Homo sapiens: one gene and its partners. The protein of the gene in region 2 purifies or fractionates together with the protein of the main gene of each other region. This does not show direct contact. Each region holds a gene or a part of one and is shown on either strand. Other genes may lie near its edges. The genes, in order: PTPA, PPP4R2, DHX38 and TIPRL.

Region 1 (7,019 bases), on a different chromosome or scaffold from region 2:
AAAAAAAAGAATTGTCACATAATGTCTGCCAGTATTGACACAGTGTTGACCATATGGAGGAAGAATTCTAAGCACTTTATGTATAACTCATTAATTCTAACAACAACCCTATGAAATAGCAACTGTTATTTCCATTTTACATATGAGGAAACTGAGGCACAGAGATATCCGGTGTCTTCACTGGGTTCACGCCAGCTGAACCCAGGTAGTCAGACTCTGACCTGCTGCCCCACACCACCCAAGCCAGTCGCTGGGCAGCACTGATGTGGATCAGTTACCCAGAGCTCTTAAAATCCCCATTGCGGGCCCCAGTCTAGCAGTGCTGCTGCAGCAGGCCTGTGACGGAGCCCAGGAGCAGTGCTCGATGCTTCACAGGTGGTTGATATGCAGCCTCTGATAATATAGAAGGTTGGAACCAGAAGAACCTAGGAGATAACCTGCTGGGACTTGTGTTAGCTTTCAGACAGGCCAACTGAGGCTGGAGAGGCTGAGGCCCTGCCCAGGGTTTTACAAGTTGTCAGGAGTTGATGGCACCAAAACCCACCTTCCTAATCAGTGATTTTTTATTTATTTATTTGTTTATTTTTTTTGAGACAGGGTCTTGCTCTGTCGCCCAGGCTGGAGTGCAGTGGAGAGATCTCGGCTCACTGCAAGCTCTGCCTCCTGGGTTCATGCCATTCTCCTGCCTCAGCCTCCAGAGTAGCTGGGACCACAGGCGCCCACCACCACACCTGGCTGATTTTTTGGATTTTTAGTAGAGACGGGGTTTCACCGTGTTGGCCAGGATGGTCTCGATCTCCTGACCTTGTGATCCGCCTGCCTCGGCCTCCCAAAGTGCTGGGATTACAGGCGTGAGCCACCGTGCCCGGGCCCTTAATCAGTGATTTTTATGCCTTTCCTGAGCCAAAAGATGGCTGAGTGTTTGTTGGGGGAAATAAAGCTACATTATTGAAATTGAGACCAGTTAACACTCTTCAGTGGTTATTTTGGGGTCTCCTTGTGCTCCCAGTGGCCGAAAGGGTGAGACTGTCTTTTTACTTTTTGCTACCTTCCCTTTCCCTGTCCTCCTGTGCAGGTACCTTGAGGTTATGCGGAAACTCCAGAAAACATACAGGATGGAGCCAGCCGGCAGCCAGGGAGTGTGGGGTCTGGATGACTTCCAGTTTCTGCCCTTCATCTGGGGCAGTTCGCAGCTGATAGGTACTAGAGCGGGAGGTGCCTATCCCTCCACCCCCAACCAAGGCTGCGTTCTGTGGCCCTCCCCTGCCCCTCCTGCGCTCCCTCCTTCCCTTCTTCCTGCCCAGGGCAGACAGTGACAGCTTGGAAAGCAGGGCATTAGACCAGCTATTGAGGGAGGCTGTTTACTGTCGACCTTCTGCTGTGAGAGCCCGTGTGGTGGGCTGGAGGAGGCGGAGGCCAAGCGCCACCAAGATAATGGGAAGTGACATGGGCTGGAGCAAGGGCGCACGCCTGGTGCATAATGGACTGGTGTGAAATGCGCCCCAGCTCCTGGCAGCAGCTGTGGGGTTTTATGTTGAAAATGAGGGACCCTTTTGATTTGGTGACCAGTGTCATCCACTGTTATTATCGAGCTGTGTGCAAAGGGGCCCGTTAGGGAGCAGCCGCCAAGTGCTGGGTGGTGGGCCTGCTTCCTGTGGGGCTCAGAGAGGCCTGCTCTGGTGACTCCCCAACTCTTGAAGCTAGTTTTCAGGATGGGCGTAGGTGATCATCTCTATTTTGATGAAGAATGAACTGCCTACAGACTGATATTCATAAATGACCATTAGTTGTGGCCTCGGGTGCATTGCCTCCCCGAATCTTCTCAGTGACACTGCGAAGGGTCTGCCAGCATGAAGCCGGCTCTGCTGACTGGCACCTGCACCAGGCACCATACTGAGTGCTGTAGGTGTGGTAATTGTTGTCATGGCCCCTAGGAGGAGGTGCTCTTCTTGTCCCCAGTGTCCAGGTGAGGAAACTGAACCTTGGCAGGCTGAAGTCATGCGTCCAACGCCATGCAGCTAGAGCTTAGCACATTAGAATACACAAACCCAGAGTTACTTATTGCTCCTTCAAGGTGAGGTGTTGAGGGCACCACGGGCAGGACTGAGGCCCCTGGGGGGGTGTGACTGCTGGGCCGGGTTGCCCAGGTAGTCGTGGGGCCTGGTTCTGAATGCTGGGGCCCATTCCTTTTCCCAGACCACCCATACCTGGAGCCCAGACACTTTGTGGATGAGAAGGCCGTGAATGAGAACCACAAGGACTACATGTTCCTGGAGTGTATCCTGTTTATTACCGAGGTGAGGAGGAGGGGTGAGAGAGAAGCCCATGGCTGCCTCCAGGCTCAGATGAACCAAGGCTGGTGGCCTTACAGTGGATCAGAAGAGCCAGAGCTGCTGCCCAAAATGGCAGGGCCGGCCGGAGCGGGTTATTGAAAAGGAAGCACCACTGGGCCTCTTCCGAAAGAGCCGCTGCTGACTGTCAGGTCCTCCGCCCAGTTCTCCTTCAGTTTCTCCTGAACACCACAGGAGTCTTGAGATGAGGGTCTAAGACTTGGTCACTAACTGGCCTTGGTGACTGCTGCAGCAGGTCTGAAAGGGTCGGGGCGGGCGGAGGTTTGTGGGGGAGGGTCAGCATCTTTCGGTGGGGCCCCACAAGGGTCTGTAGAACCATGTGCTGTGGATGTGTAAAATGAAACCACCAGAGGAGATGGAGCGAACTTCTGGTGCAGACAGCTTTTCTGTCGAAGGGACACGTCTCTGTCAGTGCCTGAGGACGTGGGCCCGAGCAAAGTGCTGGAGTGGGAGTGCGCAGGCCTGGCCTGTGGTGGCAGTCACTGGATAGCCAGCCCCACGGCTGGGTTCTGGAACTGGAAGTTATTGTCTCACCAAGGCAGGATTCCTTGCAGTGGGCCCTGGACCACTTGTGCGAGATCTCCTAGTGTGTTTGTTAAAACGCACATTCCTGGGCCCTCCATCCCAGCTTATTGCATCAGAATCTTAGGGGACAAGAGCCAGGAACCTGCATCTAAACACACGTGCCAGGCGACTGCACAGGAAAGCTGGGGACCCTCTGCTCTCTGGACCTCTCTTGAGGGAGGTGTTAGGACTTCTCATCCTCTCTGCCATCCCCATGCCCCAGTTTCCAAAGGGCGCCCTCGCTCAGCTATCTGGAGAGGGTTTGAGAGTTCTATCCCTCCTCAGTCCCTTTCCCGACACCAGCACGGATGTCTGCTGCCTCAGTGAGGTTCCTAGCAGGCCTGTGGATGCTGGCCACGGGGGCTGCTCTCCGTCCGGGCTGTGTATTCTGAGCCCCCGACGAGGTGGAGAAAGCTGGGTTATAACCAGCAGCCTTGGCTCCAGGCTCTTCCTGGTCAACATTCGGCTCAGGCTTCTGCCAAACTCCAGAGGCCAGAGGGGAATGACACATTTTTTCCAAGTCAGCAAATGGAGCCGGGACTGACGGCTGGGCGGCCACCACTTCATTCCCGGAGATCTGCTGCCCTCAGCAGTGTGGCAGGCCCAAGGTCGGGAGGACTTGGGGGCAGCCTGGCTCACTGCCTTGAAAGCCAGTCACGCGCTGCTCTCTGTGGAGTGGAATGTGGGGGTCTGCGGAGCCCTGGGGGACCTCAGGATAAGCTGGAGGAGCAGGGTGGGAAGAAGGGTGCAGATGCCACACTGAGTTCTTGGGTGTGGCTGAAAGGCTGAGCTGTTTGGGCTCCCCCGGCGGCTGGCCAGGCCTCTGGGTCCCTGTCGGTATTCTAACTAGGAGGCATGCCAGGCCTGGCCTCCAGGATTTTGGGAATTGATTCCATGGTAAAATTTTGTCTTTAGTTGGTTGGTTGATTTTGTTGGTATAAACACCCCAAAAGCTTTTCCAAAGTTTGGGACCCAGTTCCTCCAGTAGAGGAAATCTCAAAGTAGCCACTAGGTGGCAGGAGAGGCACACTGAACTTGGAGAGGGTTTGGTGACATTTATTTGAGGCAGCAGAAGGAACAGGGAGGGGAGGGCGTGCCTAGAGTTGTTGGCTGTTCCGCACCTTCTCCACAGGTCCGGGTTTTCACTTTGGGTCTAGGCTCTTGGGCATGGTGTTCAACAGTAGACCCTAGGAGGAGTGTGCCCAGGAGCCGGGGTGGCTGCAGCAAGGGCCCATCTTGCCACGTGGCCGCTGGTTGCAGCACACGTTGTGTTGGTTCTCCAGAGCGCCCACCCTCTTCCACCTCGGAGCAGTGAGCAGCATTTTGCAGTCCCTAGTTGGTGAGTGGCCTGGCCTAGCTCACTGGGGACCTGGAGGCTTGCATGGAGTTCTGTACGCCTTGCTTGGGAAGGAGGCAGTGTTTCCTCTGGAGACCCTGGATTCACCATGGTGCTCTTTTAACTGGGAGATTAACTAAAACACCGAGAACTTGGGAGTGGAATCAGGCAGCCCTTTCAGGGTCTCATGCCAAGACTGCCCTGATACCCGTGGGCATCCTAGGTGAGGGACCCCACCTTGCAGGGCCTCTACAGCCTCTGTAAATGCAGCCCTGGCGCCTTTAAGAGCCCAGGGCAGGCAGGAAAAGAATTTCAGTTTCAATCTGGCTTCTAAATTTGGAGTTTTGGGAAGGGAGGGATCAGATTTCAGCTGGAAGGGAAGGAGCTGACAGGAAGGCGCTGTGCAGAGCCTCCCCACCCCCGCCCATCCCCCCAGTTACTGACAGAGGAGCCATTTACAAAAGGCCGATTCTCTGGGGAGTGGAGAGGCAGGAACGCAGCGTCTGTGAGTAATTTCCTGCTCAATATGGCTGCTCTGACTCACACGATTCCCCTGGGGTCACTGCGGGCTGCAGCTCGCTCGCTCATTCTGGTTCTTTCTCTTCTCCCTTTGTGGCTAGAATGAGCTAATTTTTTCTTTGTCTTCCAGCCCCGATTCCTTTTTCTCCCACTCGTCTGTTTTCCTTTGCCAGAGTTACAGGCAAAGGACTGTAACCTCCCTGAAGGACTTAGGGAGACCCTGGGGTACTGAAGGCCTGGGGGCAGCCTGCAGCCCCTCCAAAGAAACTACCTCTCTGGCCTTTCTGTGTGTAGGGGCCCAGGGCCACTGGAGCTCCAGGACATGGGCCTAGCCCTGGCTCTGCCAGAGGCCTTTTGAGGATCTGTTCTTTGGCCCTGGTAGGCGAGGCTGGCCAGGAGGCAGGGGCTCTTGTCTTCCAGTGCCCATCTGCCTGCCTTTGCCTCGGAGCCCTTGCCGGGCAGGCCCCTGGCAGACAAAGCCGACAAAGCCGACAGGGTGCCTCCTGGTTGCTTGCTCAGAGGGCCCTGTCCAGAGAGTGAAACTGGTTACACAGCTCCATGCTCCCTGAGCTTTCCTGGGCCTGGAAGTGTGCACAGGGCTGGAGCCTGCAGACTGGGGAAGGGGTGGGGTAGGGTGGGGAGGTGGGGGAGGGGCTGGGGGTGGAGTGTGGTTGAGCAGGGCAGTTGAAACAAAGCTCCCCAGAGGTGAGGCCCCTGTAGGCTCGGGGTGCCTGGCTGCCCTCCTGGAGGAGAGAGCCTGGGGTGATTCTGAGTGAAGCGAGTGGTCCAAGACAAGGCCCCCAGGGACCAGAGTGGGCTTTGTCTCTGTTGGGTGCCTCGGGCTCTTGCCTGGCTGTGGTGGAGCCTGGGAGAGAAGAGGAGGGGAGGGAGGAGCCTGTTGTCCTTGCTCCTGAACATGGGTGTTTGGATGGGCTTTTTGGGAACCTGGGCCAGGGGAGGGAAATGAGGGGGATAAAATGACAGGTTTTTTTTGACTTAAATCTTAAAAGTTTTGTCACAGTTGCCCTTACTAGAGAAGTAAGAGGCCTGCCAGGAGTGGGTCACCAGGTGGCAGCCCATGGCTCAAGAGTGGGGGCTCCTGAGGGCTCTTGTGGTGAACTGATGCCCCTTTTTGGAGAGCGTTTCTGGCTTATCTTTTCTCCTTCAAAAAATAACCCAGTCTCCCCTGACACCCGCATGTTTCTAGAACCTTCCAAGTCTCTGTTTCTTTGCCAGATTCAGCCTCTTTGCAGAGTCTTCCTTCTGCAGCATGGGTCTGGGGTACAGAGCCCTGTTCCCCTGTAAATGCTGCCTATGAGCTGGGGGGCTGTGTCGAGGGGAATTATGAACTGCTTGGTTAATAAATACAAATGTGCTGGACTTGCGGTGTCAGGGGGATATGCTCAGGCACACAGGCGTCCCTCTGTGGTTTCTGACGTCATGGGAACTTCATGCTGGCTGCAGAATCTTTCTCTTCCGTCCTGGAGGGTCAGACTCTTTGGCAAGAGGGAGGACCAGGAATGGAGCCGTCCTTGTGCCTGCCTCTTTCAGCTGCTGTGGCGGCCACCCCTTCCCCACCTCCTGGCCAGGCCAGGCTGGCTGCTGCTTCAGGCACCCCTGCCTCCCATCGGCCCTCTCTTCCCTGCCTGCATGGCAGGCAGAGGGCTGTCGGATACCTGGGTTTGGTCATACCCACCTTGGTCCTCTTGCAAATTGACCCTTTCCTCATCTCTTCTAGCTCTGCTGGTGGCAGGTGCAGACCACGTGTCCTGTGGGGGGGCCTGGGGGAGAGGGGGTGGGCCTGGAGGGGTGGGGCCTAGCTGCTGCTGCTATTTATCTGAACCCAAGTGAATCCCTGTGCTGGAGAGGCGCTCTGAGGCTCCTGGGGAGTCGGTGGGAACGACACCAGAAGCTCAGGTGGAGATCTTATCTTCCTGAGGCTGCTGGATTTGGTGGGCGATAGGAATCAGGCCCCCTTTTTTTGGCTGTGGGAGAAAGAGGGGTGACTGCGGGTAGGTGGGCAAGGAATGTTATATTTTCCTAGCAGGCCTTGAGGGCCAAAGGGGAACCTTGTCTCTGGCACTTGCATGTGCCTGTTTGTATGTTTGCCCCTCAGGCAGATGCTATAGCTTGGTCCCCAAGTGTCTGCGCGTGCATTGTGTGCGTGTGCGTTTGTGTGTGTGTGTGTGTGCATGCATGGGTGTGACTTTGCTGCAGGGGAGGAGGGATGAGCTCCCAGCCAGAACCTG
Region 2 (7,839 bases):
GCTCTTCTCTGTCCGTACAAATCTTTTCCAGTCTTTAAGTGAGACCCTTCCATCTCTTCCTGGAAGAAATTTTGCAGGCCTCTGAATATCTGATACACAGCTTTGCCTTCTACCTTGCATGAGGGCCTACACTTACATCTTATCTTTCCTAGTATTTTGCAAACTTCTTGAGGACAAGAAAGTGTTTGGGGGCTCTGAAGCCAGTCTAGGTTTGAATCATGGGTCAGTCACCTGCCTATGTAGTTGTGTGATTTTGTGCAAGCAATTTCACCTCTTTATATTTCCGTTTTCTTTCTTTCCCTTTCTTTCTTTTTCTTTCTTTCTTTTCTTTTCTTTTCCTTCTTTCCTTCCCTCCCTCCCTCCCTTCTCTCTCTCTCTCTCTCTCTCTCTCTCTTTCTTGAGTTTCGCTCTTGTCACCCAGGCTGGAGTGCAGTGGCGTGATCTTGGCTCATTGCAAGCTCTGCCTCTTGGGTTCAAGCAATTCTCCTGCCTCAGCTTCCCGAGTAGCTCGGATTACAGGCGCCCACCACCACGCCCAGCTAATTTTCATATTTTTAGTAGAGATGGGGTTTCATCACGTTGGCCAGGCTGGTCTCCAGCTTCTCACCTCAGGTGATCCACCCGCCTCGGCCTTTCAAAGTGCTGGAATTACAGGCGTGAGCCACTGTGCTGGGCCTCTATATTTCAGTTTTCTTTTCTGTTAAGTGAGGAGGATCCTCATAGGATTTTGTGAGGATTCAATTAAATACTTTTGTAAACTGCTTAGGAGACACTTTTTGATAGTTTTGTAAACTGCTTAGGAGAATGCCAGACACATGAAAGTATTTAATAAATATTAGCTGTTACTATTAAATTTCTTATTTGTTGCATTAGTTTCTAAAATTTAGAGGCTTAGAACAGTTATAGACATTGTCACCTTTTACAGTTTCTGTGGATCAGGTATTGGGAAGTGACTTAGATGGGCTGCTCTAGTGTGGGATGTCTGCTAAGGTTGTGATCCAGATGTCAGCTGGGGCTGCAGTTACCTGAAGGAATTCCTGAGGCTGGAGGATCCACCTTCAAGGACAGTTCTTCTCTCTGTGGGGCCTTTCCACAAGACTGTCTAATGTTCTCATGACATGGCAGCTGGCTTCCCCCATTGAGGCCCCATTTACCAATTCAAGAGGCCAAGGCAGAAGCCCTAGTGCCTTCACACAGACAGCTGTGATTTGGTGTGCCTGATTATACTAGGGCATGAATCTCAGCAAGTGAGGATCATGAGGGGTAATTGTGGGGGCTGGTTGCCACATTTGTATTCTGTTTTCTTCCCAGGAAATCGGCATCAGTAGGAGGCTTATTATTCTATTTTTTATTTTTGAGTCAGGGTCTCACTATGTTTGTGGCCCAGGATGGATTACAGTGGCATGATCCCGGCTCACTGCAGACTTAAATTCCTGGGCTCAAGTAATCCTCCTAGCCTCCCAAGTAGCTAGTACTACAGGTGTGCGCCACTACCCCTGGTAATTTTTTATTTTTTGTAGAGACATGTTGCTGGGCTGGTCTCAAGTGATCCTCCAGCCTTGGCTTCCCAGAGTACCGAGATTACAGGTGTGAGCCACCATGCCCAGCCAGTAGGAGGCTCTAGTAATTGCAGACATTGTGATACAGGCCGGCTGGAGAAGAATTCAAGGAAGAAGGAAGGAATGAACCAAACGAAGTTATTTTTTCAGCCTCATCTTTTGCCTCTTCTCCCCTTGTAATCTTGACTTCCAGACACTGGATAAGGTCTATGACGGGCGACAAAGTGCACACAGCAATGACAGCCTAAGGGAATCGTGGAAAGTGTACCAGAGGAAGTGGTGTTTAAGTAGAGATCTGAATTTGCAGAGGAATGTAGCAAAGTGCATTGGAGAGGAGGAGCTAACCAGAGGGGCACAAGCCTTGATTATCTGAAGACCAGGTGGGATCTGAAAAACCATAAGAAATTCAGTTAAGCTGACAGCAATGAAAGGGACAAAACAGTGTTAGAAATTAGCATAATGTGTTCTCCAACAGAAAGTTCCAATAGAACTTTTTGCAATAATGAAATTTTCTTTATCTGAACTATCCAATACAGGAGCCACTAGCCACATGTAGCTACTGAGCACTTAAAATGTGGCTGGTGTGACCAAAGAATTGGATTTTTAGGCCAGGGGCGGTGGCTCACACCTGTAATCCCAGCACTTTGGGAGGCTGCGGCGGGTGGATCACAAGGTCCAGAGTTCAAGACCAGCCTGGACAATATGGTGAAACCCCGTCTCTACTAAAAATACAAAAATTAGCTGGGCGTGGTGGTGGGAGCCTGTAATCCCAGCTACTCGAGAGGCTGAGGCAGAGAACTGCTTGAACCCGGGAGGCACAGGTTGCAGTGAGCTGAGATCACGCCACTGCACTCCAGCCTGGACGACAGAGCAAGACTCCGTCTCAAAAAAAAAAAAAGGAAAAGAAAAAAGAAAAAAAAAAGAATTGGATTTTTATTGAAGAACTCAGGAACTGAATTTTAAATTTTATTTAATTTTAATTAATTTAAATTTCAATATTCACACATGGCTAATATCTACTGTACAGCAGAGCTCTTACAGTAAGAGACCCTTCTGAATAGTAGAGTGGCAGATAGAAGGAGAGGCTAAGCTTTGCCATGTAGGCAGTAGGCCCTTTCAGACTGGAAGGGACCTGGATAAACTAAACCTGGTGCCTGGCAAGTGCTGGCCAAGTGCTTGATGTGCTACCCTATTCCCTCTCTCTGCAAGGATATTTGTAATTGAGCTAGATGCTCTGAACAACGAAGGTCTAAAGACACAGGGGACTGGTTCTCTGATGGCACAATTTGAGAGAGCTATTTTGGGTGTGAATGTCTTTTGCCTACATCTACCACCTAGGATCAGGGTCAGACCCACTGTCTTTTAAGAGGGTCAACAGTGTAAAGGCTGTGTCCAAACTTGCATCTTCTTAGACCAAACAATAACCTTCCTTCCCTCCCTTGGTCCTTCTCTCCCCTCCTTCCTTCCATGACTTTGTGCTATGCTGGGTTTTGGGAAGAGGAGGTGGAACAACGCAGTACCTTTTCTTTTCTTTCTCTCTCTCTCTTTTTTTTTTTTTTTTTTTTTTTTTTGAGACGGAGTCCCATTCTGTCGTGCCCAGGCTGGAGTACAGTGGCTGGAGTATCTCGGCTCACTGCAACCTCAGCCTCCAGGGTTCAAGGGATTCTCCTGCCTCAGCCTCCCGAGTAGCTGCGATTACAGGTGCCCGCCACCAAGCCCAGCTAATTTTTTTTTTTTTGTATTTTTAGCAGAGACAGGGTTTTGCCATGTTGGCCTGGCTGGTATCAAACTCCTGACCTCAGGTGATCCGCCTGCCTCAGACTCCCGAAGTGTTGGGAATACAGGTGTGAGCCACCGTGCCCGGGCAGTACCTTTTCTTTTAAAAGCTCACAGATGAGTATAAAAATGTCCACGCACTGGCTGGGAGCCAGATGATTTGGGTTCTGGGTTCTAGTTCTGTCTCCCCAGACTTGCTGTCTGTGACACAGCTTTCCCATTTGTAAAATGTCAGGGCTGCAGAGGACTTCTGAGGTTTCCGCCCTCTCCTACCTCCTGGGAGATTATGTCATGTAATAATGCTAACAGTGGTAATAAAAACCCAGCCACGTTGAGTGTTCCAGGTTTCACGCACTGTGCCAAATGTTTCACATTTGCCATTTCACTCAATCCTCGTGGCCGTTTTACAACCCTCATTTTATAAATAAGAACCCTGAAGCTGCCTGAGTTTAGGTAACTACTTCAGGGCCACACAAGGAGTAAGTAGTTGAGTTGGGATTTGAATATTGATTCCAAACCTTGAGCTCTTAATGACTTTGCTGTATACATTACTTCTTGCCACAGGTGGGCCAGTGACGAACGAACGTTGGGTTAAGCAGGGAGGTATTCTTGTTAGGATTATTAGCAATGCTTAGTGTATGTATGTATTGTTAATTTTATTATTATTTTTTTGAAACAGTCTCGCTTTGTCGCCTAGGCTGGAGGCAGTGGCGCGATATCGGCTCACTGCAACCTCCGCCTCCTGGATTCAAGCGATTCTCGTGCCTCAGCCTCCCGAGTAACTGGGATTACAGGCACGAGCGACCACGCCCGACTACATTTTGTATTTTTAGTAGAGACGGGGTTTCGCCATGTTGGCCAGGTTGGTCTTCAACTCCTGACTTCAGGTGCTCCGCCCGCCCCAGCCTCCCAAAGTGCTGGGATTACAGGCTTGAGTCACCGCGCCCGGCCTGTATTTATTTTTATATAGAGAAGGGCGAGGGAGCGGGGTCATTTTGTTACCCAGACTGGTCTCGAACTCCTGGGCTCAAGCGATCCTCTCGCCTCGGCCTCCCTCCCAAAGTGTTGGGATCACCGGCCTGAGCCCCCTGCCCGGCCTCGCTCTACGTTTTTTAGGCGCATTCTGAACGTGAAGTGTATACACTGAATTCTCACAGCAACTGCATAGGGCATCAGTACCAGTGCCCTTACTGTACAGATGGGGAAAATGAGGCTCAGACAGGCGAAGTAAGTAGCTTAAGTTCACACAGAGAGGAAATGGCAGGGATTCAAAGCCTAGGAGTCCGCCTGCAACCCTCTCGCCTGACCGTCCAGTCTTCAGCTCCGCGGAGCCTGGGCCTGGGGCTGGGGCTGGGGCTGAGGCTCTGGAAGCCGCCGGGACGCAGACGCCACTGGGCCCCAGCGTCACACCTCGGCCGCGCACGCGCTCTCGGGTTCCGGGCCGGAGCGCGCGGCGGGAGCGAGGACGGCGGCAGGGAGCGTGCGCGCGGTGACGTACCGGGCGCCATGTTGGAGGGTTGGTGGTAGCGGCTTGGGGAGGTGCTCGCTCTGTCGGTCTTGCTCTCTCGCACGCTTCCCCCGGCTCCCTTCGTTTCCCCCCCCCGGTCGCCTGCGTGCCGGAGTGTGTGCGAGGGAGGGGGAGGGCGTCGGGGGGGTGGGGGGAGGCGTTCCGGTCCCCAAGAGACCCGCGGAGGGAGGCGGAGGCTGTGAGGGACTCCGGGAAGCCATGGACGTCGAGAGGCTCCAGGAGGCGCTGAAAGGTGGGGGTAGCTGCCCCCTCTCCATTCCCCCTCACCTTCTCCGGCTCGCTCTTCTCTCCTTTCAGGGCGGATGGTTCCGAGGACCGGGGCCGGGCGCGGCGTGGGGAGAGTGCTTCCCGGGCTCCCATCCCCCTCCACCTCCCCAGGGGCGGGGAGCCCTGTGGGCAGCTCTCTCCCGCCCCGCTCTGGCTTTGTGTCGGCCGCCGGCGTCTGGGCTGGGGGAGGGGAGCCGGGGAAACTCTTGCGGGGGCCCCAGTCTTTCTCCCACCCGTTCAGGGGACGAGTGGCGGACCCGCAGACCCCTCCCTCCCAGATATCCTCTTTTCTCCACCAGGCTACCCGTACGCTAGGCGTTGGGGTGGGAGAAAAAGTAAACGGTTGGTGGGGGCGGGGGTAGGGGGTAGCATCGCAACTTTTAAGTTGTCTCAGTATGCCTTTTTCAGGGCTTTTGAAGTCATCTTTCCGCGCCCTAATTTCGAGGTGGTTGCCTTCACTGTTCTTGATTGCACGCCTTCCACGCAACAGGCTTGAGAACAGTGGCTTACAAACTTCGAGTAGAGAGATTTCAGCGTTTTGAGAATTATTCTTTGACATTCAGAATCATTTGGGGACGGCAACTTGGGGTAGTTGGTGCTTCTTAGAAAGGCAGATTTATGGACTTAGATGAACAATTGGTGGGAGTCGGGGCCTGGGGATTTTTATTTTCACTGGATTCCCAGCTTAATATAATGCTGGTGTTCCCCCGGACCACACTTCGAGAAGCACTGCGTTAAAAATGGTTTGTGAAGTTGAGTGCCCCCTTTAGGAGGATTCTTGTTATCTGTAAAGAGGGTGACATGTTGGAAGTAGAACTTGGAGGATTGAGGTGGTAATTTGGTTGAGAGGCCTTATTTTTTTAATTTTGTATTTAATTGATTTTTAATAAGGTAAAGGACTAGGAGGAAAGTTTGTTTTTAGAGCGCTTTTGAGAAAACTGATAACGTTTTTTTTTCTTCCTTCATCTAGATTTTGAGAAGAGGGGGAAAAAGGAAGTTTGTCCTGTCCTGGATCAGTTTCTTTGTCATGTAGCCAAGACTGGAGAAACAATGTGAGTTGAAAACATGCATTTGTCGTTATAGACCAGTGCATTATTAAGAATTGCTCAGGAAAGGGAAAAAAGTATATTTTGGGATAATTAAATAATTCATTCTAAATTGTAGAAGTCCTGGTCATTTAAATAATTTATATATTTACATTTAAAGAACGTATACGCTTACTTACTTTATACATGGTCTGTAACGGATTTTAAAAACCTGTGTATGTTAAAATTTTCTTTATAGCTAGGCTTTGGCACGCTTAGAGAATGTATTAGTCTTAACGAGCCAGAGAAAGGAAGAATGCCTATTCCATTATGACCCTTTTTGGCCATAACAAATAGGCTTATTCCTAGAATTTTGTGGCTTTGATTCTGTTTCAGAGTCTTGGTGGTATTTTCTCATATTGTCGTGTGTCCAGCCTTTTTTTGGTCATATTTGCATATGTAGGTGTTTAAAGTGTCACTTCTATTTATCGTCTGGAGGACTCTGTTATTATCTGACAAATTCCAGATGCTACAGTTTTGACTTGTAGACTTTCTAAGATAGCTGACTTGTTACATATGCTCAGCATTTTATTCAGCTCGTTTCCAAATGTTCTGAATCTGAAACTTACGCTATAAAGTTAGGGCTGTGTTCAGAAGGAACATTCCAGGTCATTGTTTTGCAGTTTGTGTGGTAGACACAATCTGGCTAAGTTTATTTGTAGACAACAGTGCATCTTTGATGACTTCTTTTTGTAGTCTTTGGGTGGGGGCTGGGGCAGCAGGAAAGGGGTAGGTTTCTATGGTTTCAATGTTAATAAGTGGGTTATCTGCCCAGTATGAGTGTAGCTTTCAGCAAGAATTGTATAATTTCTCTGGCTTTATTATTAGCAAGTGTTCATTTCTCACAAGATTTGCTTATTTGTAGTCTAGCCTTTTAACAACTAGCCTAATTTTAGAAAGAAAAAAACCTTTGCTGCCTCAGTGCTTGATTTAATGGTCATGCCTGCAAGCTGAGTCTCCTTAGTATTCTATTAAAATACACCAGTCATTTTGAGAACGTCAGTGTGATGTGTTCAATGTTGTATTTCTATTTATTACATTAAAAAATGGGACCCTCTGGGCGGGGGAAGTCATTTTTACCTTCGCATTAGGGTTTCATATAGAACATCTTGATTTAGAACAATGTAAAACTGTTAATTTGTGCTTATATAGATAAGCCTAAAAATGACCACATGCCATCTTTCAAAAATAAATTAATCCCTAAAACATAAATGCTTAGACTGCCACTATTCCTCTTGAATTGCTAGTCGGCACAGACTTAGCCCTGTCAACAATGTCAAGCCAAATAGCATTTTACTTTTGGCTGTTTTTTGATATACAAGATGATATCAAACTATTTGGAGATGAGTACTTAAAACGTCTTACTCAGTTTATCAGGTTTGTACACACTGCTTTCCCTTTTTGATAAAGTACATTGCCTATAAATGTATAAATAATTGAAAGTTTCTAAAAGATAGCTTTTTAATATCCTGTCTTACTGGAACACCAAGTGGCTGGGGAAGTTATCTGATTTTTTTTGGACAGTTATTTTATCCTGGTAGAAGAGGACTTAAAATTCCCAATCCTCCACCCCATATTCGGTGTTTATGTATTCACTAAGCATGTTTTGTACTGAAATGATTGG
Region 3 (7,880 bases), on a different chromosome or scaffold from region 2:
AGTCTCTACCCGAGCAGACCGATAATGTCTGAAACAGGGAGAGCAACTGGTAAAGGCCCCTCCATAGGAGAAAAACTCTGCCCTAAAACCTTTGGCTGTCCAAACAAGTGATCTGTCCTTTTCCACTTTCTCTCCCTGGGACGCAGGCTCACATATGGCAACAACCCAAGGCATTTCTAACCTCTACCATCTCGTCTTTATTCACCTTTGTTTTTCCCCACAAATTCCTACCTACCTTCAGTATTACAGAATCATAATAAAATCATAAAGCTCTAAATCTCCAACAGGAAAACTGAGAGATAAACATGAGCTGTTATTTTCCAGCCTCCGTTCGCTTCCCTCTGGGCTAACCCATACTAAGGCCTTTACCTGTCTTTCCGGATATTTTGGCCAGCCTGGTCACCGCCCTCTTCCTCAGCATCCTTCTGGTCATCCTTGCTCTCTTCCCAGTCCTTGTAGGAGGAGACTTTGGACTTCTTCTTGTCCTCCCCATCGTCCTTCTCCTCTCGCTCTCTCCGTTTCAGGGAAGCCAGCAAGTCCAGTCCGAGTAATGAAGGGCGGGGAGCAGGAGCCTTGAAGACATGCTGCTCGCTGGCCGCACTTTTGGACTTGCAAATAAGACCACCAACCTGACAGTCCAGATCAGTGCCTTCCAATCGATGGATCGAGGCATCCTCACTGGTGTCCCCCATCACAGGATCTGGGATTTCTCTGGAAGGAAGGCAAACCATTTGGTACTAGAGAAGGCTCAGCTCTACTATATCCCACAATAAATGCAGTTATGGTTATATGTAGGTGATTAACCTTCCCCATCTCCCCTTAAGACCAGGACTACTTTTGCTCCCTCTCTCCAAGACCTTTCCATCAAGTCACTGCCTATCTCCAAAGATTCTCCTATTCCAACCCCCAATAAACACCAAAATAGATACACACACACACACACACACACACACACCCCATACATTCCTCCCCAGCCCCCACAAAGATCCAAGAGGCAATAAAAAGTCTCACTAAGGGACACTTTCTAGAGCCTGATGTCAGCAGCTGTAACAGGGATGTAGGGAAAACACCACTAAATTTGAATCAGAAACCTCAATTAGAAACCAGGCTCTTGACACTTTCTACCTGTATGATGGTAAGCAAATAACTTAATCTTTGTTTAGCCATAATTTCATATCTATTAAATGGAAAAAATTTTTACCTTATCTAATCCATGAAGCTATTGTGAGAATCAAACAAAAAGTGTATGTGAAACCATAAAGAGTAGCTCTTTATGTAACCATAACAGTTAACATAAATGTAACTGCTACATTGTATTATTTGCTATCCTCCTATATACTGTTGGTCCCTCACCCATTTTTTTACATGAGTTCTACCTCTTCCTCTCTTTAAACAACAGGTACAGCAGCACAGAGATGGGGCAGAAGGCTACCGTCCATGTTCTCCATACTTTAGTGGCTTTTCTTGGCCTAGCTGCGTTTTACAGAAAACAATTTACTCACAGCAGCCAAAATCAGTTTAATAACAATCCATGTTCACCAAAAATATTTATGAGAAACACCAGGTTAGGAAAAGGTGTTACTGAGAAGTATTTAAGTGGCTACAAGACTTCTGGCACTCAAGTTGGAACAAGCTCCTCTTTACCTCTCACTACACATCTGCCACTCATCAACATATATCAGTTCTGGATGCTTGGATAATTCCTCTCATTCCAACAAGTTAGCAAAGCAAAGGAGATGCCACCAGAATCCAGAATTGTTTACCAAACTCTAATTAAATGCACAGCTCTACAGAGTATTGCCAAACAGACTGGACACATAATATTAATGCAGAAACAAGAGTTACATTTTGAAAATGCCATCAGGCAGAACAGAAAAAAAGAAAGCTGCATATTGGTGACATCTGTGCGCATGTGAGGAAATCCACACAAGAAGGTAAAGATATACAGGCTCTACTCAATAGTTGTCTAAACTAGGAAAGGTACCCTGGACTGCCATTCTACGCAGTTGAGAGAACACTGGATGTGTTGTTGACTGCTGTAGCTCAATGTCTAGCAAAATAAGCGTTTGATAAATTAAAAAATGAATTAATTTAAACTTATTAAAGGAGGACAGGAACCCAAACATTTCTGGAGACAGCAAGGGAAGATTCCAGCAACACAGGACAAGGAGACAGCCAGAGAGAACTTCATTAGCTGCTGAGACGAACAAATAAGGAGCTAAAGAGCAAGATTCTTGAGAAGGATTAATGGCAAAGAAACTACAAGGCGTACGAGAAAGCCAGGGAAGAAAGAACCTGGATTCATTCATTCAACAATTATTCACTGAGGGTGTCCCTGAGCCAATTGCTGTTCTCGGCGATAGCAACAGAGAACAAGACAAAAATCCCCGCCCACCTGGAGCTGACATTCTAGTAGAAGAGATCGCCCACCAGATTGCCTGGTATAAATGACACTGTGAGAGAGCAGAGGAAGACACAAGGAGTCCTACTCGGGCTCGGTGACAGTCTGGGGTGGGTTAAAGCGGAGGCCTGGGAGAGGGACCAAGGCCACTCCAGGCAGCATCCCTGGATCTCAGCGAGGCCGCTCCAGGCAGCAGGATTTGACCAGAGCAAGGAGGAAGGCCAAGGCGGCCAGGACGGATGCAGCATCCCTGAGGTGAGTAAGGCAAGGTGGGTGACAGGGACGACAGAGGAACTCCCCAAACTGGGGCCCGGACCTGAGCAGGGGACCAATATCCGCCGCCTAGAGCCGCCATGATTACAGAAGGGCAGGCCAGGAAGGAAGAAGGGACTCTCACCTCACCAAGCGCGACTCTTGGGACCCTTCTGTCCCGGATTCTGGGGCGCCGGCGCTGCCACCCCTCGCTCAGACAGGCTCAAGGAGCCAAAATCCACACCTTGAAAGCGGCCATTATTGTCCCTTAATACTTTGCGCGCCCCCTCTATCCGCCCAAAGCTACCATAGAGAGCAGCCTGGAACACGCCCGATTCCTGGATCCAAGTGTGGAACGGTACGCCAACAGGCTCTCAAGGCCTCCTCTGGGGCTCTGATCAGACACTTCCGAGTCTCCTTGTGACCAATCACTCTTAGCCTAAGAGACTACATCCCGCCTCTAGTCTGGGGGCAGGAAAAGGAGGGGAAAAAGGTCGACCATCTTTAATACGGGCGGAGGTGACGCCTAGCTTCCGGTCAGAGCCGAGCAAGGTGGGCGGTGACTAGAAGCTCTTCCGTTTATTGGGCTGTTGAGCGGGGGCCGACCGACGGCCAGGAGTTTCTTTTCTGCGCTTGTGCGTTTTCTGTTCGGTTTCCTTCCCGCTAGCGGGGCCACGAGGGTTGCTAGGCAACAGCCCCTGGGTGACTTGGTCTTAGGGTCCTGTCCGGCTTGGGGCTGATGAAAGGAGCTGTCCGCGCCCGGGCTCTTCCGAGAAGTGGTTGCTGACAGCCACAAAGTGAAAGGGAGTGAGGCGGCGTGGACGAGTAAGGTAAGTGCTGGGGTCCCTTAGCGCTTGTGGGCCAGGAGCAGCGCAACACAGGTGACTTTAAATATGTATATCGGATATTTTGGAAAATGGAGATGCGCGCCCGGCTGTAAATAAAAATCACCCATGCGTTCACACGCAGAGATGACCACTGATTTCCAGTTGTTTTTCTGGAATACATTGTAGTAAGATTCTGTACAAAAGTGAGTTCAAGCTTTTTTTCTTTTTTTGGTGTTTCTGCAGTTGTGGCGCGCGCCTGAGGTTCCAGCTACTCGGGAGGCTGAGGCGGGAGGATTGCTTGAGCCTGGGGAGTTGAGACCAGCCTGGGCAACATAGCGAAACCCCGCCTCAGAAAAAGAGAGGGAGAGAGGAAAGCAGTGGAGTTATTGGTCAAAGAGTATGTCAGTTTTCTTTCCAGAAAGGTTTTGTGTCTGCATTCCAGCAGGAACTCCCTGTGCCTGCCCCTACCACTATCTTGTTTAATTTTTGCCAATTCAGTGACTTTGTAAACATATGTTTTAATTTGCTTTTCTTTGCTTACTGGTAAAGCTTAACTTTTTAGTTTATTTACTGTCCATTTGTACGTCTTCTTTTGGGAATTCTCTGTGGGTATCATTTACTATGGACATTTTCTTAGATGTGGTCTCAGTTTTCCTCTCCTGCTTCCAACGTTTGTCCAGTTGCACCCCTAGCCTCACCACTAACAACTTTGTTCTCCCCTTACTTTCTCCTTTCGATCAGTAACACGGAGGAACTGCTGTTTGTTTGAATTCTAGTGGGACAGATCCGTCTTCTCTTTGACCTTCCCTTTCATTGGTAATTTGTTCTGCTGCTCACATCTGATGACGTCCCTTTGGGCCATCAATGTCCCTGTTTAAAGTATGACCTATAGCTGGAACAATCTTATTTCCTATGTGAATTTTAGTTAAATAATTCCTTTTTTTTTTTTTGGAGACGGAGCTTCGCTCTTGTTGCCTTGCCCAGGCTGGAGTGCAGTGGAGCGATCCTAGCTCACTGCAACCTCCGCCTCCAGGGTTCAAGCAATTCTCCTGCCTCAGCCTCCTGAGTAGCTTGGATTACAGGTGGCATCTGCCACCACGCCCGGCTAATTTTTTGTATTTTTAGTAGAGACGGGGTTTCACCATGTTGGCCAGGCTGGTCTCGAATTCCTGGCCATAGGTGATCCACCCTCCTTGGCCTCCCAAAGTGCTGGGATTACAGGGGTGAGCCTGGCCTAATTCGTATCTTAAAATGTGACTTGTGACAAAAAAAATAGGAAAAGAAATCCTCCCTTTTCATATTTGGAACTGAATTCAAAATACCGACCATCTCAATGGAGTCTCTTATAGATGACCACAAAACTAAGCTTCTTTGTCAAAGAGTTTCTCAAAAATGAAATTTCTACCAATCATGAAAATAGATTATTGTAGTAGAAGGACCCCTGGACTAGAAATTTGGTGGCCTGTATTCTAGTCCTTGTCATTGTAGTAGAAAGTGCAACTGTAAGCAAGCTAGTTTGTAAAATGACGGGGTTGTATTAGGTCCCTTGTACCTCAGTATTTTATTATTTGTTTATGGTATTGTAGTTTTCACACACACTCTTAATTGATCTGTTTGCCGTGTAATGAGGTGCACCTAGTAAGGTGCACACGAAGAATCTTTAAGCCAGGACTTGTAATAATATAAAGTATACAATAAAGGACTGTTTAAAAAGTGTAACACATGCAAGAAATAATATGCTGCCATGACAGAGAATATGGATGTTCTCTATATAGAGATATGGGGCAATCTTCATAGGTTAGGTTTGAAATAATGAAAAGTGCTGAAGAGTAGATAAAGTGTGTGTGCTGAACATCTGCCATTGGTCCCTCCACAGCCATTCTTCATCCTCCTCTAGACTGCTCTGGGACAGGGAGGTTTGCCTGCCTCAACAGGCCCCTGCCCTCTGGTTCCAGTTGGAGTCAGCCGGTGGTTGCATGAGCAAAGGTCAGAGGGAGGGAGGAGAGTGGCTGCAACACCTAACAGCAGGCTGCCCTCCTATACACTGTCCTCTCCACTCACCTCTTTCTGCCACACAATTCTTATAACTGCTTCCTACCGTGGCTTCTTCCTCCCATGGCCTAGGGATGGGTACAGCATCCCGCTGTTACTAGCCCCAAAGTAGTACACTTTACCGTATTGTTTTTCTACACCTGCCTTAATTAAACTGCCTTCAAATTACCAAAGTTGAGAGTGTCATCGCTTTCCTGCTGGAACACTGATACAATAGGCTATCTTTTGGGGGTGGGGAGAGAGAGAAAAAAAATATCGGAACGCATATTTGTATTTTTTGGTGAATGCATAACAAAACTCTGAAAGATACATGAGAAACTAATGAAAGCAGTTATCTGGCCCGGGGGAGGGAACAATGAAAACTGGTTCCAAGGAGCAGGGACAAAGAGAGGGAAACTCCACAGTGTTACCTTTCTATGATGTTTCTTTCATACCATGTGAATACATTAGCTACTCTGTGAATTAATTTTTTTTAATGAGGGCTCACGCACTTAATCTAAACTGTCTTTAAACATTGCACCTTTATTTCAGGAGTGACAGTGAGGATTCACATTTGGGTTATTTCAAGATGAGCTTCCTACTGCCCAAGCTGACTAGCAAAAAGGAAGTAGACCAGGCGATAAAAAGTACTGCTGAGAAGGTGTTGGTTCTCAGGTTTGGGAGAGATGAAGATCCTGTCTGTCTGCAGCTAGATGATATTGTAAGTGAATGTCTAAAATAATTGGTTTTTATTAATAATCTGTATATTCTCACTTCAGCATCTGAGTAGTACATGAGAGGGAGTAGTCAGGGTTGGGTATATAGCTGTTCATTTGTTAGTTCACTAAGAGCTGATTGTGTGCCTGCCCTGAACCAAGCCCCCAAATCTGTGTGTGCTGAATCTGTCTTGGATGTCCTTACCCACTAGAAGCTGTCAATGCTGTTTCACCAACAAGGTGATGGAAGAGCAGAAAACTATTAACAAGCATCTGTGAACACTATCTTTTCAGTGCTCGCAATAGTGGGATAATAGTAGCCCCATTTCCCAGTAGGAAAAAAAAAACCAGAGAGGTCAAGTAATTTCCCACAGGTGCAGATCCACTATATTGCAGAGTTGAGATTTGAACTCAGTTTTCTGTAGCTGCAAATAATCTTTTCTAGTGTGCTGCCTCCAGTATGTGCCTGATGCAGAGAGAGACCTAACCCAGAACTAAGACCTCTTACCGCCATTTCTACTGCTACCATCCCGTGTAAGAGCTGAGCGTACAAATCCTCATTTCCGTGGTTACAATGAGGGTGTGATGTGTTAGCTTGGGGAAAAAAGGACCAGAGGATTCTACCCTCAGTCATAAGCAGGAGGAAATACCACAGAGGTCAGTGATGTAGACACTGAAGCCACACTGCCAAAGTTCAAACCCCAGCCCTACTGCTCAGGAGCTGTGTGACCTGGGGCAAATTACTTTACCTTCCTGTGCCTCAGTTTCCCTATCTATAAAATGGGGACTCTGATAGCATATACCTTATAAGAATGATGTAAGGATTAAATGAGTTAACAAATGTTAAGCACTTAGGACAGTTACCACATAGTAATGTTATATAAGTGTCTGCTACTAATTATCGTGGTTTTCATTTCTGGGAGGATTGGGAGGAAGGAGACGTTAGGGAATTTCAGTATCCACATAACATATTTCTAAGTTGTGTTGTTTTAAATGAGCATGGGCTACTTTTATAAAAGCATTCAAAGAAAGAAATTAAAGGAAGAAATAGATTCACACAGTTTTCCCCAAGGATTTGTATGCTCAGCTCTTAACACGGGATGGCAGCAGTAGAAATGGCGGGTAGAGGTCTTAGTTCTGGGTTAGGTCTCTCTCCACAATGAATAGACAGGAATACTCCCATGCTGTCACCCTCCTAAACTCACACAGTTTTCCCCAAGGTCCCCTTCTAACCTCACACAGTTTTCCCCAAGGTCCCTTCCTAACCTCATACAGTTTTCCCCAAGATTCCCTCCTAACCCCGTTGCAGTGAATGAGACTCTGGAGGATGGGGTTATGCTTTGTCTAATGTGGGAGCCACATGGGCTGCATTGTTGGCCCAGGAGTTTTTTCAAACAAAACACTCTGTTGTAGTAACAAGTTTCACAGAAGAAACATTAAGCTGCCTCTCATATTGTAACCTTTGTCTCTCTCGTCATTTGCAGCTTTCTAAGACCTCTTCTGACTTAAGTAAAATGGCTGCTATATACCTGGTAGATGTGGACCAAACTGCAGTTTATACACAGTATTTTGACATCAGTTATATTCCATCTACTGTCTTTTTCTTCAATGGGCAGCATATGAAAGTGGATTATGGGTAAGTGCAGTTGATCT
Region 4 (7,019 bases), on a different chromosome or scaffold from region 2:
AGAATCAGTGGAGAAAGTATGAAGGTGGGTCCTGGTGGCGGGGAGAGAGCGGTTGAATGGAATGTGAGGTATTTGGGTCTTTAAAATGAATATGTTTAGCTGGCATGGTGGCTCACACCTATAATCACAGCAGTTTGGAAGGTTGAGGTGGAAAGATCACTTGAGCCCAGGAGTTCAAGACCAGCCTGGGCAACAGAGTCAGACCCCATCTCTACAAAAAATACAAAAAATTAGCAAAGCACGGTGGCACAAGCCTGTAGTCCTAGCTACGTGGAAGGCTAAGCTGGGAGGATGGCTTGGGCCTGGGAGATAGGCTGCAGTGAGCCATGATTGTAACACTGCACTCCAGCCTGGGCAACAGAGCAAGACCCTGTCCCAAAATTAATTAATTAATTAAAATGAATATGCTTGGCCATTTGCTGAATAAATACCTATTGTCTACTAACACCAAGTTCTTACTATAGTAAGTCTTGGATTTATATAAATGAAAAAATAGAATCCCAATGCTCAAAAAGGTTATCAGCCAGGGAAAGGTCAAACAGATGTGGTAGCTGCTATAATGGGTATGCACAAGGCTCAATAAGCATTTGAGAAAGAAGTACCTAAGTCTGCTGAAGAACATCAGATAAGACAAGGCTTGAGCTGACCACAGAAAGAACAGCTAGAGATGGGAAGGAGAATTTCAGAAAGGGGACCTGCATGTACAAAAAGTACTGAGACATGAAATAATAACATATATTCAGGGAACTGCCTATAATCTTACATATAAGCACAGGGCTACATTAATGATGAAAGAAGAAATAACAGGATAACCCAGTAATGACAGTGACTTAACTGCCTGGAGAGTCACCAGCCACAGGCCAAATTCTTTTCTGCCTTGGGACCATTACACACCCTCTTCCCTTACCTGGAGTATTCTCCCGGCTAATGTTCACTTGTCCTTCAGATTTCAGTACACATGTCACTTCCACAGAGGGGCCTTTCTTACCATTCCATACCACAATAGATTTATCTTGGTATTCTCTCTCATAGCACTCCATTACGAATTAACGGATTTGTAACTATCTTCATTTATGTTTCCACTTGACTGTAGGCTCCATGGTGGTGGAAATATCTGCTTTGTTCATCACCACATCTCTATTGCTTAGAAAAGTACCTAGCACACAGCAGGTGCTCATTAACCATTTTCCGGATAAAACTGAAGCTAGAAGGTATTAATACCTTTGCTGGAGAAAAGGCTCTGAGCCAAAGTGTATTCTGATGGGGTTATCAGCAACAGACTTAAAAAAAAGACTTTTAGTAAAGGAAAGCTGTAGAAATAACCTGACTTATGACAACTTGATGTCACAACAAATTGAGAAGCACATCATTATTATTTGACATTACTACACAGTGATATGTGTAATTTATGGAAAAACTGACTTGCAACATTTCTTCAAATTTCAAAATTAGTTACCAACAGTCACACTGGACACAACACAGGCAGTAAACTGAAATATCATTTTAGCATGGCACAGTGGAGAGAGTAGGAATTAGGAGACCAGAACTCTAGTGCCAATACAATAGCATATTTTAGGGCAGTAGTTCTTTCCTAGGGGACGTTTGGGAATTTGTGAGAGTACTTTTTCTTGTCACATCAATAAGCAACCAATATCAACAGTTAGTGAATAAGGACCAGAACGACAGATCTGGGATGCACAGGACAATCCTATACAACAAAGTCCAGTCCTGCATTCCACAAAACTTGCAGTATCTTACCAGGCATTCACAGAGGTGAAAAAGCCTACTTATAATGATCTGACTTTAGAAACTATTTCCATTTTACATAGATAATAAAAAAAAAATCACTCAATTATCCAGGAAGTCAACTATTTTCCAAATCAAGGAAAGATTATACTTTTTCTTATTTAGAACTTCACTAAGAGTTGTTCATCATTTTGGAAAATTGTGTTAAGAGTCACTGATTGATACCTTACATCTCTGTCAGCCTACATTTTTTGCTGTCACATTTACGGTGACTCAATATGCAAATATAAGTACCTGACTGCTTCATTATGTCTTTGGTGCAGTCATATTATGCATTTAAGTATTAAAATATATTTTATTCTAAACCAATTTCCTTTAATTTTATAGTTAAAATATGTTGATTGCTGCAAAGTAGGTGGATTAAATCATCTACAAATTTCACTACAGGATAGTAATATCTATGAACTAATACTTCAGCTTAAAGTAGTTGGTTAAAAAAATGCTCTTCAGTTTAAGACTTACTATGTATTCTTGTACACACATATTTATACACATATCCTTTCAAGCAACTCCATCCACAAAACCACATGTGCTTTCCAAATACCGACCCACTTATAGACATGATATATATACCCCCTTGGATACAAATGCACACCCAGGTATGCAAACTCATAATGAACATTTAGCATAGTCAATTCAACAGGTGGTAGACAAGTGGAAAGATACAAGACTAGGTGAACTGAAGAGAGAATAAATCTAAACAAAAAAAAGTGAATTTAGAGTTATAAGTGAGCAAAGAAGTAAAGCCTATGAAAACAACTATCTAATGCTAGAATAATGATATATATTAGATGATACAAAGAAAACTTTGCAATTAGTTTCATGACCTTAAGCTATCTTTTTAGGCCTTATCTATAAAATATGGAGGCTACAAAAAATGATTCTCTAAAAATTCACTACAATTTCAAAATCCTTTGATTCCACCGAAAAAACTAATTTTATTTTTAGATAAGAAAAATAAAATTTTTTATTTATCTAAAAATAAAATTATTTTGTCTCCCAAGCTGGGGTGCAGTGGCACCATCATAGCTCACTGTAGCCTTGACCTCCTGGGCTCAAGCAATCCTCCTGCTTCTGCCTCCCAAGTAGCTAAAATTTGACTTTAAAACAAATCTGTTGCTGCTTTTGTATTATTTTCATTCTTTAAATCACAGCATCCACAATCATTATGCCCCAAGAACAATGTTTGATGTTAGGGTCTCTGTCTTTGACAGATCTCATGACAAATGCTATAATTGAGAGGTTTTTTGTTTGTTTTGTTTGTTTGTTTGTTTGTTTTGAGACGGAGTCTCGCTTGTTGCCCAGGCTGGAGTGCAGTGGCACGATCTCGGCTCACTGCAAGCTCTGCCTTCCGGGTTCACGCCATTCTCCTGCCTCAGCCTCCCGGGTAGCTGGGACTACAGGCGCCCGCCACTGCGCCCAGCTAATTTTTTGTATTTTTAGTAGAGACGGGGTTTCACCATGGTCTCGATCTCCTGACCTCGTGATCCGCCCGCCTCGGCCTCCCAAAGTGCTGGGATTACAGGCATGGGCCACCGCGCCCGGCCTAATTGAGAGGTTTTTAAAAAGGAGTATAGAAAAGAGATATTTAACTCTGTGTAACGGAGTTGTGAAGGGCCTTGTAGAAAAGGTGGTATTTTAGCTGGGTCTTTGGGTCTTAAAGAATGAGGCATTTAGTAAAAAGTTTCAGTTGAGTTATTTCTGGAAAGTATTAGAGACCCAATTATAATGCAGTGGTAAAGAAATATGAATAACCATACTTGTTATGTGTGTTTTCTACTTCTTTTATTTTATTTTATTTTTTTTTTTTGAGACGGAGTCTTGCTCTGTCGCCCAGGCTGGAGGGCTGGAGTGCAGTGGTGCGATCTCAGCTCACTGCAAGCTCCGCCTCCCGGGTTCACGCTTCTCCTGCCTCAGCCTCCCGAGTAGCTGGGACTACAGGTGCCCGCCACCAGGCTGAAAATTGAAGTGGTAGTTGAATGATGCACTGAAATCATAACACATGGATCATTTTAAAAAATGACATCCACCTTGCCGTCTGCAGATCCTATCAACATCATTTTTAATCCAAAATGTGAAAATTAAGCCACAGTCTTCATTAGAGTTAAATAATAAACAAATAAACTACAAGGTGGCCAGGCAGGTCTATTAAAAATGCTTTGCTAAAATAAAGCCTTAAGAATACACAAATATTTTGTGAATTTTATAATGGATATTCAATAAGATACACTCTAGATTCAAGTGAAATTGTACATGACATCATGTTAAAGCTCAGTGTTATTCTTTTTTTTTTTTTTTTTTTTTTGCTCTGTCGCCCAGGCTGGAGTGCAGTGGCGTGATCCTGGCTCACTGCAAGCTCCGCCTCTTGGGTTCACGCTACTCTCCTGCCTCAGCCTCCCGAGTAGCTGGGACTACAGGCGCCCGCCACCATGCCCAGCTAACTTTTTGTGTTTTTAGTAGAGACGGGGTTTCACTGTGTTAGCCAGGATGGTCTCGGTCTCCTGACCTGGCGATCCAGCCCGCCTCAGCCTCTCAAAGTGCTGGGATTACAGGCGTGAGCCACCGCGCCCGGCCAGGCTCAGTGTTATTCAAAGTGAGTCATATTTTTGTCTGATGTTAAGAATGCAAGAAAAATATTAATTTTAAATAAAAATAATACTCACAATCTTCACACTCAGGCTTGAAACTCCATGATCATGAAGTTCATCCTCAAAAAGGAGAACTTCTTCAAAAAACTTAATCTGTTCTCTGGCTTTCAATTTTTCTGTATCTATATGATCTGTTGTAGGTACAACCTGAAAGAAAAAATTTTAAAGAGGAGCACATTAAAAAAAAAGTTGAGGAGCTACAGAGACACAGGAAAGCAGTCTTTTCTTTTCTTTTTCAATCAGTCTTTTCTACATAGCCAGAGCACACAGTTCTAAATTTGGGTGTCATTAGTAGATATAAAAGATCAGAATATGGCTTGATTCTGAAAACTGAAGACATTACAGATGCCCAATATTATAGCTTCACAAAAAAAGCAGTAAAAATTTATCATTTTTCATGCAAGTCATATTAAAATCAACTTCTGTTGTGACTATGAGAAAATTAATCAACTAAACATCAGTCAGTGTGATGAACGACTGCTATCATAGAAGGTCATAGAACATTTGTGCTGTGAAAGCCACTTTTAGGACATTCATATGGAACTTAAAAAATATTTTTCCATTAGAATGTTAGATATTTGCTCAACCTAACTCCCCAAAACCTACAACAAAATAAAGTGCTTTAAATAATGAGGTAAACAAGAACTTGTAGAGAAATTCTGAGGGAAACTCTTAGCATTGCAAAGAGCTTTGAATGAAGTTGGCAATTTTTCAAGGTATTATTTTGTAGCTCTAAGACATGCACACACGTAATCCAACAAAAGCATCAACAGTCCCAAGGCAGATCATATCAGGAGCTCATTAAACTCAAGTGTCTCCTGAGCAGCACCCAAGTATGAATTGTGATACTATTTTCTACCACACCTAATTTCACTACAAAATGCTCAGCTGTTTTACTCCTTGACAGGTTTACCATAAACAAACACAACAATGCTTGTCAAACCATAGATATTTAGTAAATGTAGCTTTACTTAAGCGTCATGATTAGGTGATTTGTTTTGACTCATGGACAAAATTAGCAGATGGAGAGTAATTTGAGATAACTAGATAAGAATCAGAAGAAAATTACAAAGGATGTTGTTTACAAGACTGCACAGATTTTGGGAGGAAATCTAAGGGAACGTTAAGTAATGTAGGGGGAAAAGATGCCATGAAAAGAAAGTGGCAGTTTGTATATGATTTCCAGGAGGTAAAAAAATGTCCATAATTCTTCCATGGTCACTTAGAGATAACACTTAGCCCTAAGCAGTTTTACTTCCAACTGTGTACGGAGCAGGTATAAGGCCACTCTTGAGGTGAAAACTGGGAGGGGAAGGGAGTTGGAGTGTAGGGGCAGGGCATATAACCAGTCCCCTGCATCACACATTAAGTTTATGATCTAGTTAAACAAAAGTTGGTCTGCCAACGAGGACTGCCTAAGGTTACACAACTGAAATTAGTGTTAAATACACACACTTGTAAATTTCGTCCTTTTTATTTGATTTTAGTTCAGAGGAACACATTTTTAACATCCTCCTTATAGATACTCCTGAATCCCCCAAAATTAATCATTATCTGAATTTTCTCATTAGTAAATTGCTTCATTAATGTTTCACATATGCCTTCAGTAAGTGATTGGTCAAAATGAATCTGTCAGTTTTTCCATTTACGTACTTGTTCTTATAAAATGAAAGACAAAGTCAAAAAACAAAGCATGAGTTAGAGATATCATATTTAACTTATTTATGCTATTGTCTCCATTTGCAAGGCTAAATATGTCTAAAACTTTATACTTTTCAGCTCTCTTCCTCAACTCCACATATCTCTCTCTGAACCCAGGGATCTAAAAAATACAACAAAAAAAAAATAACCAGCTAAATATAAAACATATGGGCTGGGCGCGGTGGCTTATGCCTATAATCCCAGCACTTTGGGAGGCAAGGCGGCCGGATCACTTGAGGTCAGGAGTTTGAGACCAGCCTAGCCAATATGGTGAAACCCCATCTCTACTAAAAATACAAAAACTAGCTGATCGTGGTGGCAGGCACCTGTAATCCCAGCTACTCAGGAGGCTGAGGCAGGAGAATCGCTTGAACCCGCGGGGCAGAGGTTGCAGTGAGCTGAGATCACACCATTGCACTCCAGCCTGGGCGACAAGAATGAAACTCTATCTCAAAAAAATAAAAAACATATGGAACAGTATTGGCAGAATAAGTAATCTAGACAAACCTTCTTGATGAAGACAATTTAAAAAGCTGGCTAAAAAAACCCAAAAACTTCCTAAAAGCATCAAATGGCCAAGGCAGTATGGAGTTACTGGGCTGAGATCTGGAAAGACTGGAGCCGAGAAAAGTAAGTCTGTACTTGGCTGGCTTTTGCCCTGAGGCATAGCACTGGCTGATCCAGAGAAGAAGCTGGGCTCTGCTAGCTTTTGGTGCCATCACTGCTCAGTGCTCACTAAGGACAAGGACCCTGGAGAATTTCCTGCTTCCTCCCAAATCAGAGATGACACCCTAAAGAGCTATAGTGATTTCAGAACTTTTTTTTTTTTTTCTTGAGACAGAGTCTCGCTCTGTTGCCCAGGCT

The links.
Region 1: the proteins of PPP4R2 (region 2) and PTPA purify together in Homo sapiens (affinity purification with mass spectrometry; 3 studies listed by BioGRID and IntAct, with this or other methods). This does not show direct contact.
Region 3: the proteins of PPP4R2 (region 2) and DHX38 purify together in Homo sapiens (affinity purification with mass spectrometry; 4 studies listed by BioGRID and IntAct, with this or other methods). This does not show direct contact.
Region 4: the proteins of PPP4R2 (region 2) and TIPRL purify together in Homo sapiens (affinity purification with mass spectrometry; 6 studies listed by BioGRID and IntAct, with this or other methods). This does not show direct contact.

What each region holds. Positions count from the first base shown.
Region 1 is NC_000009.12:129,135,396-129,142,414, forward strand, and holds part of PTPA (serine/threonine-protein phosphatase 2A activator), read left to right. Parts: intron 1-1,075; coding exon 1,076-1,200; intron 1,201-2,196; coding exon 2,197-2,297; intron 2,298-7,019. UniProt on the Homo sapiens protein: PPIases accelerate the folding of proteins. It catalyzes the cis-trans isomerization of proline imidic peptide bonds in oligopeptides. Acts as a regulatory subunit for serine/threonine-protein phosphatase 2A (PP2A).
Region 2 is NC_000003.12:72,991,977-72,999,815, forward strand, and holds the start of PPP4R2 (serine/threonine-protein phosphatase 4 regulatory subunit 2), read left to right. Parts: upstream 1-4,834; 5' UTR 4,835-5,061; coding exon 5,062-5,095; intron 5,096-5,130; exon of another isoform or gene 5,131-5,215; intron 5,216-6,100; coding exon 6,101-6,182; intron 6,183-7,839. UniProt on the Homo sapiens protein: Regulatory subunit of serine/threonine-protein phosphatase 4 (PP4). May regulate the activity of PPP4C at centrosomal microtubule organizing centers.
Region 3 is NC_000016.10:72,088,970-72,096,849, reverse strand, and holds the start of DHX38 (pre-mRNA-splicing factor ATP-dependent RNA helicase PRP16), read right to left. Parts: upstream 3,004-7,880; 5' UTR 2,799-3,003; intron 2,657-2,798; exon of another isoform or gene 2,472-2,656; intron 712-2,471; 5' UTR 693-711; coding exon 370-692; intron 29-369; coding exon 1-28. Other genes in the region: TXNL4B (thioredoxin-like protein 4B), read left to right, coding at 6,101-6,232, 7,712-7,863. UniProt on the Homo sapiens protein: Probable ATP-binding RNA helicase. Involved in pre-mRNA splicing as component of the spliceosome.
Region 4 is NC_000001.11:168,188,951-168,195,969, reverse strand, and holds part of TIPRL (TIP41-like protein), read right to left. Parts: intron 4,602-7,019; coding exon 4,470-4,601; intron 3,763-4,469; coding exon of another isoform or gene 3,742-3,762; exon of another isoform or gene 3,575-3,741; intron 1-3,574. UniProt on the Homo sapiens protein: May be a allosteric regulator of serine/threonine-protein phosphatase 2A (PP2A). Isoform 1 inhibits catalytic activity of the PP2A(D) core complex in vitro. The PP2A(C):TIPRL complex does not show phosphatase activity.